Linked DNA regions of Homo sapiens. The protein of the gene in region 1 interacts with the protein of each later gene in a pairwise test. Each region holds a gene or a part of one and is shown on either strand. Other genes may lie near its edges.

Region 1 (7,025 bases):
CCTAGGAGGGCGGGGGCGGCGTGCACACCGCCCCACGGTGCCGATACCTGACAAAGTCGCCGTACTCCATCCAGAAGACACCCTCACTGCTGCCGTGCGGCATGAGCTCGCCACGCAGGTGCCCCGGCCAGTGTGGCCACTCGTCGGACCAGCTGCCGTTCCAGGAGAAACGGCCCCACGGGTTTCGGAGCCGCAGAAGCCTGCAGACCACAGGGGTGAGGATCTGAACCACACTGCCCGAGTCTCACCGGCACCCCACCCACCCTCAGCCAGGCCGGCCCTACCTGGTGCCCTGGACATCTCGGACATCCAGGATGGAGTAGGCATGCCGGGGGCGCAGGCCCAGGCTCTCGTAGGCCGAATCGTCCACCTTCATGTTGCCCCCGCCACAGGAGGCACCCATGAGGAACCTGTGTGGCAGAGCGGCCCTCACCGACCGGGACCCTCACCGACAGGGGACCCTCACCGACCGGGGACCCTCACTGACCGGGACCCTCACCGACTGGGGACCCTCACCGACCGGGGCCCTCACCGACCGGGACCCTCACCGACGGGGCGCCCTCACCGACCGGGGCCCTCACCAACAGGGGCCCTCACCGACCGGGGACCCTCACCGACCGGGGCCCTCACCGACCGGGGACCTCACCGACCGGGGACCCTCACCGACCGGGGCCCTCACCGACCGGGGCCCTCACCGACAGGGGACCCTCACCGACCGGGACCCTCACCAACAGGGGACCCTCACCGACCGGGGCCCTCACAGACAGGGGACCCTCACCGAAAGGGGACCCTCACTGACCGGGACCCTCACCGACCAGGGACCTCACCGACAGGGGACCCTCACCGACCGGGACCCTCACCGACCGGGGCCATCACCGACGGGGCACCCTCACCGACCGGGGCCCTCACCGACCGGGACCCTCACCGACCGGGACCCTCACCGGCAGGGGACCCTCACCGACCGGGACCCTCACCGACGGGGACCCTCACCGACAGGGGACCCTCACCGACCGGGACCCTCACCGACTGGGGGCCCTCACCGACCGGGGACCCTCACCGACAGGGAACCCTCACTGACAGGGGGTCTCACTAACCAGGGGCATGGCTGAGTGGGGCCCTCACCGACTGGGGGCATGGCTGAGCGGGGCCCTCACTGACCGGGGCCTTGCTGACCAGTGCCCTCGCTGGCCGCGACCTTGCCACCAAGACAGGCAGGCGCAGCAGAGAAGGGCCCACTCCTGCCTGTAGGGACCACGTGAAGTGTTCAGGAGGGTCTGGACCAGCCCCCTCCACCATGCCTGAAGCGCACAGGGCCTGAGTCAGGGGTGGCAGGCCTGGGTCCCCTGGAGGCCTTGTGGGGCTGGCTCTGGGCTCTGTGGCTCCCGGGCGGGTGGGGGGTGGGCAGCAGCACTGCCCAGGGTCAGCTGAGAGGAGGGCTCCGGGAGCTTCAAGGTGCTCGCACCGGGGCACTCCGAGGAGGCCCCTGGGGGTCGAGGCACAGACCCGCTGACCAGAGTGTGGCCAAACTCGACACGCCGCTCACGCCTGCCCCGAGGCGGATGACGGCATCAGTCTCGCCCCACGGCCCAGGTCAAACTCGACACGCCGCTCACACCTGCTCCGGGGTGACGGCATCGGTCTCGCCCCACGGCCTGGCCAGGATGTGGCCTTCCTGGCATGAGAAGGCCAGCTCCAGCCCCGCCCAGGGAGGGGGAGGTGATTGGGGCTGTGGCCTGGCCACGCGGGGTCAGCCCACGCCAGGGGCACCTCGTGGAAGCAGAACTGGGTCAGGGGCCACCAGCCCCACATCTCCCACCGCTCCGCCTCGCCTCTCCTCCCAACGCGGCTGACCACGCAGTGCCCCTCCTCTTACCCAGCCTCCTTAGAACTCAGCATTTTGGCCCAGATGAGGTCAGTGTCAACGGGCTCCTCGCGGGGGTTAGTGGAGCTGAGCTGCAGCGCCAGGCTCTCACAGGGGGCGCCGGTGAGCGTGGCCAGGCCTTCGATGGCGCGGCCCGCCTGGAGCGCAAAGTAGGAGCCGTGCAGCTTGGCCAGCGCCTTCTCGATGAGGGCCACCCACAGCTGCTTCCGCTGCGCCTGCAGAGGGCCGGGTCAGAGGCCACCCCCGCCCGCCCCCCACACTACCCGCCCTGGGAGAAGAGGAAGCAGCCGGCCTTGTTTTCGGGGCTGGGGTCAGAGGCTGCCCCTGCCGCCCGTGCCCACCCTGCAGGCCGCCCCACCTGTGAGAAGAGGAGGCAGCCGGCCTCATCACAGGGCAGCATGTCGTCCACCAGCACCGTGGTCCACGTGCCGTCCTTGCACAGCCGCACCTGGTAGGCGCCCTCTGCACACAGGCTGCGCGTGACCATCACCCGCTCCACCAGGTCCGGCCGCTCCGCCAGCACCGCCAGGGCGCTCAGGAACCTGCGCAGAGCCTCAGGGTGACCTCGCGGGGACCGCGGCCGGTCGCCCGCCCACCCGCCCCACCCCGGCCTTGGAGAAGGCCTCACCAGCAGTTCCCCAGCAGCCCCTGCAGGATGTCTGAGGGCCGCAGTGTGTGGAACACAGACCACGTGGCCCTGTGGTCCCTGAAGACGGAGCAGTTGATCTCCTGGGGTCGCAGCCACTGCCTCACACGCTGCTGCACGCTGTCACCCGCGGGGAAGCCGACAGACTCGGGCCCGGGAGGGAAGCTGTCATCCACGAAGCTCACATTGTTCTGCAGAGACCACGGCCATGTGCTCAGGCTGGGCAGGGTGGCCTCGCTCCACCTGGCAGGGACAAGACCCCACCCAGGAGAGCGCCCAAAAGCACTGCCTGAGCCCCAAAGGGACGGGTGGAGCGTGGACAGCCACAGACCTGGCGCCGGCCCTGTGTCGAGGAAGCCCTCAGCCCTAGTGGAGAGGCCACCGGCTGGCGACAGGTGAGGAGCAGGGGACGTGTGGGCCCAGGGGGACAGCGCAGCCCCCAGTGGGTGGCAGCACGACTCTGGCCCTGGCCCTGCTGGGGAGGGTGCAGGCTGCGCCCCAGTTGACCCGTGGGTGATGCCATCCTGGACTCTAGAGGGCGGAGCACGGGTACATCCCGACCTCGCACTTCAGCGGGGTCTCCACGCTGCCCCTGGGAAGCCCTCGCCTCCTGCGGCACATCAGACGGGGCTCGGGGCCCTCCTGGCCACGGTGGAGGGTTGAGGGGGGTGAAGGTCGTGCATCTCGGTCACCAGCAAGGACCAAGGGTCAGGAGGCCAAGCTGGACCCCAGGGCCATTGGGAGCTTGGAGCCTCGGGGCGGAGGGTGCTGCCCTCCCCATCACGTCTTAGGCCTTGTGGGCTCCTCCCCAGCCCATCGCCAGAGCCCAAAGCCTAGGAAGGGGAGGGCGGGAGCAGGAGGCTCAGGAGCAGGAAGAGGGCGAGGGGGCGCCTCACCTCCCGGCAGAAGGCCACGATGTTCTCCCAGAGTGCCTTGGCCTCGCCCTCGTCTGTCTGCCGCCGCTGCTCCACGTGCATGCTCTCCCTGCGCCTCAGGGGCGCGGCCCCCCGCCGCTGGGCCACCAGGAGCTGAGGCGTGTGGCAGGCGGCGCAGTGCTTGGCCCGCAGTGCGTTGAGCAGGGTACAGGCAGGGCAGGCCCACTGGCCCGGGCGCTCGGGCAGGACGCGGGCGGCCTTCTGGGCCGAGGACACCCGTCCGCAGCTTCTGCCGCAGGGGCTGGGCTTGTCGGCCCCACAGTCGGGGCAGTGGGTGGGGGGCTCGCCATGCTCCTGGAAGCCGTGCAGTTTGGAGCAGCCGCAGGCCGAGCACCTGGGGGCCACTGTGGGGTTTCTGAGCGTGCACTTGGCACATGACCAGGTGGTGAAGTCGGGGCTGGAGGGGCTGGCGGGCGTGTAACGCACGGTGTCTCCGGCCAGGTCAATGATGTCACTGCCCGAGGTGGAGCTGCCGGCCTCTACGCGGCTGGTGCCACCCTCCGTGGCCTCTTCCTCCAGCACACTCAGCCGCTTGCCAGACAGCAACTCTGCTAGGCGGGAGGCCCCAGCCCAGCCCGAGCCCTGGGGGGCTCCCCTGCAGCCGGCAGAGGGTGACGGCTGGGCAGCCTCAGGCACCGGTGGCTGCAGCTGGGGGGGAACCTCGCGTCGGCTGCGCGGCACGGGGTTGTTCTGCAGGGTGGACGAGAAGGGGCTGAAGGGCGGGACCCTGGGCGGCTCTGGTTCGGCAGCTGGGCCCTGGCTGGTGGCTGGGGGGTTGGCCTCGGCACCTTCCCCGGGGAGGCCAGGTGGAGGCGCGGCAGGCACGACGTGGAAGCCGGCCGGGGCCACCACTTCCGGGACCACCAGGGCCTCAGGAGGGATCCGTGGCAGCGAGAGCCTGCGTGGGCCCCCGCAGACGGAGCAGGAGCTGGCCACGGGCGTGTTGTGCAGCGTGCAACGCGGACACGCCCAGCCCCCTCTGGGCTCCGCCGCTCCCTCCTCCTCCTCCTGCTCCTCCTTCTCCTCCTCGTCCTTGTCCTCGCACTGCCCCCTGGCGGGCTCCGTGGCCACCAGCCCCGCAGTCCTCACTGGACCTGCTTCCTCCTGGCAGCTGCCCTTGGGCTCCCCCAGGATGGCGGGTGGCTTGGGGAGGACCCCGTTGAGGACTGGCAGGAAGGCAGCCCCAGGCGCAGGCTCCGGGGTGAAGCCGCACACCTCGCAGGCCTCCTTGCCCAGGAAGTTGCGGAAGGTGCAGCGGGCGCAGGGCCATTTCTGCTCCTCCACGCTGAGCCGCAGGATGTGGTTGAGGTCGGGCTTGTGCCGGGGAGCCTCGCAGATGGAGCACTGGCGCTGGCCGGCCGGGTTCAGGAAGGTGCAGCGCACACAGGACCACTCTCCGACCGTGGCCATAGACCCGGGCGAGTGGGTGTGGCTGCAAGGGAAGGTGCTCATCAGGGCCACCCTGTGAGGTCCTGAGTGGCTGGACCCCACCCTCCTCTCGGCCTGGGGAAGGCACCCGTCTGTGGCTGCAGAGCTACGGGGCCGAGGGCCTAGGGCTGAGCATTTGAGGCAGGCGGCGGTGGGGGCTGCCTCCACCCAGAATGGATCCATGGCTCAGGGCCCCTCTTGCCCGTTGGAGGCTCAGCAGACCCCTTGAGCCACACAGGATCCTACAGAGAGGGCTGAGCACCCCACAGCCGGGCTGCTGTTCCAGGGCACTGCTTTCTCTGTCACCAGGCCTGTGGACGGCAGATAGCAGGGGGTCCCGGCCAAACTCAGGACCAGGTCGTCCTGGGCGTGGAAGAACAGGTGCTCAGACCTACGGAAGGGCAGGTGCATGGGCCGGGGCCTGGGGAAGGCACAGGCTGATCTGAGCAAGGGGCCTCCCCACACCACAGCACAGCCTCCGAGACAGACTGGCTGCTCTGCCTGGCAGAAAAATCAATTGTTCTTGTAAATATGGCCTGAATCTTGTGCTCCATCTAAACCCTTTTGGTTCAGGAAGAAAGAAAACCTGCCTCTTCATAAGAAGCACAAAAACAAAAAGTCTCCGCGAGCAACACGGGTGTTCTGTGGAGCCGAGCGAACTCCGTGATGCTGCCTTCCCTGCGCTCAGCCCCGCGTGGCGAGGGCTCTGAGCTGCCCCTGGCAGAGTGGACGGGGGTGGACTGGGCCCGGCGAGGCTCAGGGCGTCCAGCTGGAGCAGAGAGACCCAAGGCCGGGAATCTGCTCTAACAGCGGGCTTCTGTGAAAGCCCAAGCAATCTGCCCGTAGACAGCCAGGCCTCTCCCCGCCATCACCACTCGGAGAAGGGCATGGATGCAGCTGTGGCCGGCGGGCTCCCGGCCGCACCTGCACGTTCCTCGGCCTGGCTGCCGAGGCGGCACAGCCCAGGCGTCCGGCCTGGGCCCCTGTGGGTGGCACAGTGGCCATGATCTTTGCAGCCCCCACTCCGGGAGGTGCCTTCACAGACTCTGCACCCCGCTGACCGCAGGTGCAGGCAGAGGTGGGCTGGGCCTCCTGGGACACACCCTCCCTTTGGCCCTGTAGTTGTCACCGACTAGCAAGGACAGCCTCACCAGCTCCAGAGAGGAGAATGAGAACCCGGGTCCCCAGGACCAAACAATCGCCAGCGGGGTGTGTCTGCTGGGAGACACCTTTCGGAGTCATCCTGGCAAAACCCAGGTGGGTCAGGAAGACGTCTGCACTTCAGGAGGGTTTCAATGAAGTCAGAACAAGGCCTAAAGTTCAAACGTGGCCCCGGGACACGGGTGAGGAGGGCGAAGGCAGGCCACGGCCCTTCTGTGGCTGGAGACGCTGAGGGGAGTGTCACTGACCCCGCAGTCTGCGCTGTGCCGGCCTCTCTCGGTGGGCCGAGGTGGAAGGGGGCCAGGGGTCAGGGGTCAGCGGTGGGAGACCTCGGCAGGGCCCCCACCCTCCCTGCCCTTCTGCCCTGGTTCTGGTCTCCACAACCCCCCAGCCACTCTAGGGCCACCCTCACCTCTGCAGGGCCTGGGCAGGTTCATGGGCTCAGAGACCCGAAACCCTTACAAAGATGTTGTTTTGAACTTTAGAGATGGGGTCTGATTGCCCAGGATGGTGCAGTGGCTCGCGCACGGCTCACTGCAGCCTTGACCTCCTGAGGCCAGACCGCCAAAGCCTGGAAGTAAAAGCTCGCGTCAGGAGCCCAAAGACCCAAAGCCAGGCCTGAGCGAAGCCCTTTTGGAATTCTCAACCCAGAACGCTCCTGAAGTCGCAGCCACACGTGCTCAGCAAGGAGCCCTCACTACTGCAGGATGGTTACCTTCGAAGGGAGCGGGCTCAGGGCAGACGACGTGAGGGGAGACGACGACGTGGGGGGAGACGACGACGTGAGGGGAGGCGACGTGGGGGAGGCGACGTGGGGGAGGCGACGTGGGGGAGGCGACGTGGGGGAGGCGACGTGGGGGAGACGACGACGTGGGGGAGACGACGTGGGGGAGGCGACGTGGGGGAGGCGACGACGTGGGGGAGGCGACGTGGGGGAGGCGACGTGGGGGAGGCGACGTGGGGGAGGCGACGG
Region 2 (7,025 bases), on another chromosome or scaffold:
TGATATTTCAACTGTTCATAAATTTATATTTTATGAAAGACCAATCACTTCACATAGATCTTAATTTCATAATGCAGAGAGATATTGTTTCATATGTCTATACCCAAGTTACTTGAAATGATGCTTTAGACAGAGAAAATACTCAAACATTTGTTGATCTGAGTCTATGAAATTATCAAATCATAGCAAGTCTCTTATGATTCCTAACTGGCTAAGTAATTGCTATTCTTTCTTTTGCTCTCATACAACCAATTTCCTAGCAAATATTAACAATAACAATCCTTACCTTTTGGTGGAAAATAGGACTTGCTTTCTGCTTTATGAGGCCAATCTACTACCAAAGGCCCAAATCTTCTGAAGCTAGCAGTTATTTCATCTTAAGAAAGTACAATAATACACATTAGAAATTAGTTTCAGTGATTCGTTCTAAGAAATTCTGTACTGTTACTATGAAGATTTAACATTTAAAAGTGCCAAATACCTTAAGATAAATTAGAATATAAACACTGGGAATATGTCTAATATACTTATTAAAATAATATGTCAAGATTAACAATTTTTGTCAAAATAAATTCACTTTTAAGCAATGCATTGGTTAGAATACTCAATTCCATGTGAATTTTAAAATTTTATATAACATTGTATGGATACTAATGACTTTATAGTACACCAAACCACAAATAGCACTGGATTGAAAAAAATGCCAACATATATAAATAAAATCTATTACTGCTTCACAAATAAAATCATTTTATTATAGGAAAAAAGGTCTGCTAAAACAAGACTTGAATAACTACAATGTTGAAAAAATATACAAGGGTCTGATACATGCCTGGTAGTTTCACTGAAATCCACATAGGTTACATCCAATTGCTATGTCTTACGTTATTTCATTACATAGAAAGCTTATGAAGATCAATACTTAGAATTAAGTTTGTGGATATCTGAATCATAACTAAAAAATTTCCTAAAATGTAAGAATGAGTGATACATTTCCCATAACCTCACAAATATAGCTTAATATTTTAAGTCTTCAATTAATTTTCTTTTGTTATCACATACAATTACTAGTGTTTGTGAAACCCTAATTTCCTATTCATGTTCTGTTTCCATTTCCCTTTCGGGTTTAATAGCCTCTTTCTTCCCTGTTTCTAAGAGCACATTTATCCTTAAAGAAATTAAACTTTTGGCCGGGTATGGTGGCTCATGCCTGTAATCCCAGCACTTTGGGAGGCTAAAGTGGGCGGATCATGAGGTCAGGAGATCAAAACCATTCTGGCTAACACAGTGAAACCCCGTCTCACCTAAAAATACAACAAATTAGCGGGGCATGGTGGCGGGCGCCTGTAGTCCCAGCTACTCAGGAGGCTGAGGCAGGAGAATCGCTTGAACCCGGGAAGTGGAGTTTGCAGCGAGCCGAGATTGCGCCACTGCACTCCAGCCTGGAAGACAGAGCGAGACTCCACCTCAAAAAAAAAAATAAATAAATAAATAAAAATAAAAATAAACTTTTGATTACCAAGCATTGCAGATATTATCTTATGGTTGGTTCCATTTATTTCAGTGTATGTGTGCATGCACACATTATGGTGATACAAAAAGCTTTAAGTTTTATATACCTAAATATATTCTATATTTTAAAAACAAGTAGAATATGACCTAGGTCATGAAAATCTTATTTACAAAAAATGCTCACAGTTACAAATATGATAAGATCTAAAGTGAAAAATAAAAAAGCTTTTGTTCAACTACTTTCATATTTCAACAGGTGATAAAGTATTTTAAAAGAAGAAAATGCATTCTAATTCTGAAAATCTCTAGGTGGTAAAAACTTTCATAGTCCATTCACATTAAATTTCATATCTTTTTGTTTTTGTTAAAGCCCAAATCACCATGTTAATAAATATCTTAATAAATACCTTCATCAATATCTGGAGGAAGACCACCAACAAAAACTTTTCGAGAGAAGCGTTCTATTCGCTCTCCATTTTGGTGAGCTGAATAACAGGTGGGTGAATTTAAAACTCCAACTTGATCACTGTGACCATCATCAAGCAAGCCATCATCTATTGGAAAGAGGGAAGAACGACCTAGAATAAAGAACAAATACAACTTGAATCTCAGATCTGAGAAAATGATAAATTTAAGCATAAAAATACCAATGACAAATTCAAAGACTTAAAAATGAAGGTGATGCAGGTGAACATAAAAATTAAGAGAAATTTAAATAGCATGTGGTTTTAATTACCTGGATTCAAGAAAGAAGCAATCTAAAGAGTGACTTAGAAATAAACATAGTCATATGTCAACAATTAAACTGCAAAAGAGATACTAGATCACTTCAACTTGTTATGAGCAAGAACTTGTTATAAGCAAGAACCTAATGTATGTGGACAGTTAGAATGGATATATAACAGGAGAAACTTTTCAGAAACTGGTGGCAGAAAGGAAATGACACAGACTAAATAGATAAGGGGATATAATTTATAAAAAATCACTTGTAGACTACAGTAAGTAAGGATGAGGAGAACAAGTAATACTTGTATACAAGGTCTTCACCTAATTTATTACACGTGTGCCAATTACATGAAACAGTAGACGGAGCTTCCGCACATGTGCAAAATAGAAAAGGTACCCCCTCTAGCACGTTAGTGCCCATTTGAGCCCACATTTCAGGAGGTAATCCTTATATAGGGCACATCCTGCACAATCCTCTGAAGTAATCCCCACTCTGTGGGTAATCCCTCCACAAAACTTAAATGCCCTGATATACTCCCTGGCTGTCAAGGAATGTACATTTAGAAAGATAAGATCTATATATGTAACCATGGTACACATCCATAAGAAAGCTTCAAAGTGCTCAGAGGACATATTCTGGAGGAAAGGAGTCAAATAAAAGGATGATTTCCTAAATCTCTAAGTGAAATTAAATAGCATTTGGGATAAAAAGAGAAAAATAGCAGTACATAGTGAGGCATTAGAAAGAGGAGAATATCTATAGGTGGAAATATTTACAGGAACATGGTTTTCAGTAAATTTTCCTTTTTTTCCAAGTGAAAGGAGAAACATAAGAAAATGTAGGAAAAATTGAACTTACTTGAGAAATAAGGAATAGTCAAGGTTGGCTGAAATATGTTGGAAACAAGGAGAGTAAAAGCCAGAAAAGCCCTTTGAGGCTAGAGTATTTAGCATTGAATGACAGGCTAACGAGACATTTAGTAGGTGGTGAAGATAATAAACTAGATACAGGGATTCAATCAAGATTATAACTTTTTCTATGCATTAGGGAGACTTAGTCAATATGGATAAGGTAGTTGAAAATGAGCAGATCAGAAGCTGTGCAAAAAATCCACAAAGGATGGATGGCAGTCACAAGCAGATAGGAAACAAAATAGGGAGAAAGAATGAAAAAGGAGAGATCTAAGGAAGACTTTAGAAAATGATAAAACCATTAACTGATATAAGGACAGTTAAGACCAGAAACTGGTATAAGAAAGGAAAATAATTTAAGCTTTAGATGTAAAGTTTTATATGCTGTTAGGATGTTCAGAAGCAAATGTATAGTAGGAAGCTGAAAAGGAAGTGGAGAAAAGAAATGTCATATTTCTGAGAAAATAATTTGGAGTCAACTCCATGGGTTATAGTTTAAGGTCCTTTATAACATCAATGATAAACACTCCAGCGAGAAATGATGAGGACAGTTCCTTGGGAAACTTACAAGGAAGAAGCAGAACATTCAAGGAGTTAGAGAAAGGAGTGGTAAGAAAAGTGGGAGGGCAGCCAAAATATCATGGTAATAGAAGCACCAAAAAACCAATAAAAGAACGAAAGAGCAATTAAGTAACAATGTGAGATATTAAGATAATTACTTTTAATAAACAGTTGTTTTTGAGGACATACATGATCTGTGAAGGTAGCTGTTTCAGGAAAGTTGGGTAGGAGTCACATTGCATGTATTTAGAGTTTTATTACGTATAGAGATCAAATGAAGAGAAGTATGTTAGAGAAGGAAAAACAGTAAGAATATGGACAAGTTGTTTTTCTTTCAGTATTAACTGAAGGATTTTTTTGGATAGGAGACAATGCATATAATCTATAGCAGCGATCCCCAACCTTTTCGGCACCAGGGACCAGTTTTGTGGACAACAATTTTTCCACAGCAGGGGGATGATTTTGGGATGAAAATGTTCCACCTCAGATCATCAGGCATTAGATTCTCATAAGGAGCACACAACCTAGATCCTTCACACATGCAGTTCACAATAGGGTTCACGCTCCTGTGAGAATCTAATGCTACTGCTGATCTGACAGGAGGTGGAGCTCAGGCAGGCAGCAATGCTCACTTGCCCTCCACTCACCTCCTGCTGTGTGGCCTGGTTCCTAACAGACCATGGACCAGTATCGGTTTTATGTTGGGTATCTGTCTATATATTAAACAAACAGGCCACGGACCGGACCGTTTTATGTTGGGTATTTGTTTATATATTAAATCACATGCCATAGAACATCTTGAACAATATGACACATGATGCAAGTGATACAAACAAAGACAATTAGAAATGTGACAGCCTGAACAGAATGGGTTGGGGACAAGAAGGAAGGGACCACATGCCTGTCAGAGTGAGGGAGCTAGCTACCTAGATGTTTGACATAAAAATTTAGTTTATAAGACACAACAACAGAGAGAAAGATGATATTTGATATAGGAAATGAATTATTCTAAAGATTCAAATGCTGTTTAAATATGATGTTCTGAAAAATACCCATGTTCACTGAGTAACTTTGTGAATATTGCTTAACTTTTCAAATACCGCTGTTATTAGAAACAGGAAGCAATGTAAAACAAAATGTCAGTATTTTTTGTCATCAATAGAAAGGAAACTCTTCAACATGAAACTATTTTTACTCAATAAAATGAACATCAAGGTCCACTAAAAATAATATTAATTGTGAATAACTGGTCAAACTTTTAAAGGTTAGACTTTAATTGAATAATTCTCTACTTTAAAAGGAATAAGATAAACAGCATACATACAAACGATTTTAAGGAAAAAAATCACAAATCCAAATTCTATATTTATTTCAGATGTACAATACTTTGGAAAGTTTTTCACTTTAAAATGCCCTAACACAAATAAAAACTTAGCAGTGTCATAAATACAGTAAGTATTCAAATGTCTTTCTAACAGACATTTAAGTTGAGAAAAAATATGGATCACAAATACTTAGGGTCTATATTAAAAAAAAAAGAATGCGGTGACAAATCACACTATAAGCAATGCCAAAGAGAAAAGTGACCCAAAAGTGACTCAAACTTTTTGTTTACTATAATAAAATATTACTTAGTATTCATATAACTAAAAACATCTATAATCTATTAACGAAGTTCAGCTAAACAAAGAATGTAACGAAAAGTTTAAGAACATTTTGCACACTAGCCATACTAACAAGAATCTTCACTGTTGGACAATAATGACTGCTTTTTTTCAAGAAGCCATAAAAGCTACAGATTTAAATACTCATTTAAAAGAAGAGTTAACTGAATATATATCATTGACAAAGTCTGACCTTTTACCTTGCCAATTATCCTTTTATCATATTCCAAATTAATATGACAATAAAAGGAGAACCATTAAATAAGTTATATCTACCACTGTAGTATACTTTAAACATGCTTTCTAAGAAGGATACCATACGTATGTTTTCAGGTTCTTACACCTCAAAGGAATAAAACTGAATGATAATGAAACACAACAAATTCATTTTGCTGGAATGCAGCAAAAGCCAGGCTCAAAGGAAAATTCATAGTTTTAAAAGCATATTAGAAAACAAGACATGCTTAAAACAAATCATCTTGTTTCTACCACAAAAAGCTAGAAAAAGAACAGCAAATAAAATACAAAGAAAGTACGATGAAGGAAATAAAGTAACAAAAAAGAGACATCAATCAACACAGAACTTACAAACATTAAAAGATTAAAAAGAATGTTATTAGCCACTTTATGGTAATAAATTTAACAACTAGAGGAAACAAATCCCTTGAAAAATGCAGCTTTTCAAAAATGGCACAGGGAGAAAAAATCTGAAAAGTTCTTTGTCTGCTAAAAAAAAATGAAAGTCATAACTTAAAATAAAAAAATCTTCCGACAGAGAAAAATCCAGGCCTAGATGGCTTTACTGGCAAATGAACTAGACTTTTGAAGAAGAAAAAATGGCAATTTTATACAAACTCTTCCAGAGAATAAAGAAAGAGGAAGCACTTCACAACTTTTTTTTACAAGTGCAATACTAAAATCTGACAAAAACATAAGGAAACTATATACCAATATCCCTCATGAACACAAATGCAAAAATCCTAAAAAATATATTGGCAGAATGAATCCAGAAGTATAGATAAAAATGGAAAACAAATCATGATTAAGTGGGGTTCACCCCAGGAACGTAAGATTGATTTATCATTTTAAAACCAATTACTGTTAATTGTACTACATAAACAGACAAAAATAGAAATACCATAAAATTATTTCCATAAATGTAGGAAATGCATCTGATAAAACTCAACAGCTATTCATAATTAAAAAAAAAAAAACCACAACTCCCAGAAAACTAGGAGTAGGAGGGAATTTCTTCAATCCAATAAAGAGCATTTAAAAAAAAAAGAGTGAAAGTCTGTAATAATAAATTATCAAATGGTTTCTCTTGAAGGTTTGGAAGGATGTTCACTCTATTTCTACTCAGCATTGTACTACTGGAGGTACAACAAATCAAAGAAGATGAAAAAAATAATTTAAAGTCATGAACACTGGCAAAGAAAAATAAAATTACTTAGTATAGACATAATTGTACATGTAAAATTCGAAGAAATCAAACTAGTAGAAATAATTGTATTTATCTAGGGAAGAAATGCAAATTCAATTTACAAAAACCAAATTATTTCTAAATGCTAGTAATAAACTGGGAAAAATTTTAAATATCATTTCCATACCTCATCCAAACCCACCAAATACTGACAAATAAACTTAACA

The links. Proteins that work in one complex are often made in the same cells at the same time.
Region 2: the proteins of CAPN15 (region 1) and CPEB2 interact in a two-hybrid assay, tested with the Homo sapiens proteins (one study listed by BioGRID).

The regions. Positions count from the first base shown.
Region 1 is NC_000016.10:544,687-551,711, reverse strand, and holds part of CAPN15 (calpain-15), read right to left. Parts: exon of another isoform or gene 5,075-7,025; coding exon of another isoform or gene 4,874-5,074; coding exon 3,425-4,873; intron 2,720-3,424; coding exon 2,511-2,719; intron 2,425-2,510; coding exon 2,241-2,424; intron 2,098-2,240; coding exon 1,874-2,097; intron 411-1,873; coding exon 285-410; intron 201-284; coding exon 48-200; intron 1-47.
Region 2 is NC_000004.12:15,047,479-15,054,503, reverse strand, and holds part of CPEB2 (cytoplasmic polyadenylation element-binding protein 2), read right to left. Parts: intron 2,091-7,025; coding exon 1,920-2,090; intron 377-1,919; coding exon 287-376; intron 1-286. UniProt on the Homo sapiens protein: May play a role in translational regulation of stored mRNAs in transcriptionally inactive haploid spermatids. Binds to poly(U) RNA oligomers. Required for cell cycle progression, specifically for the transition from metaphase to anaphase.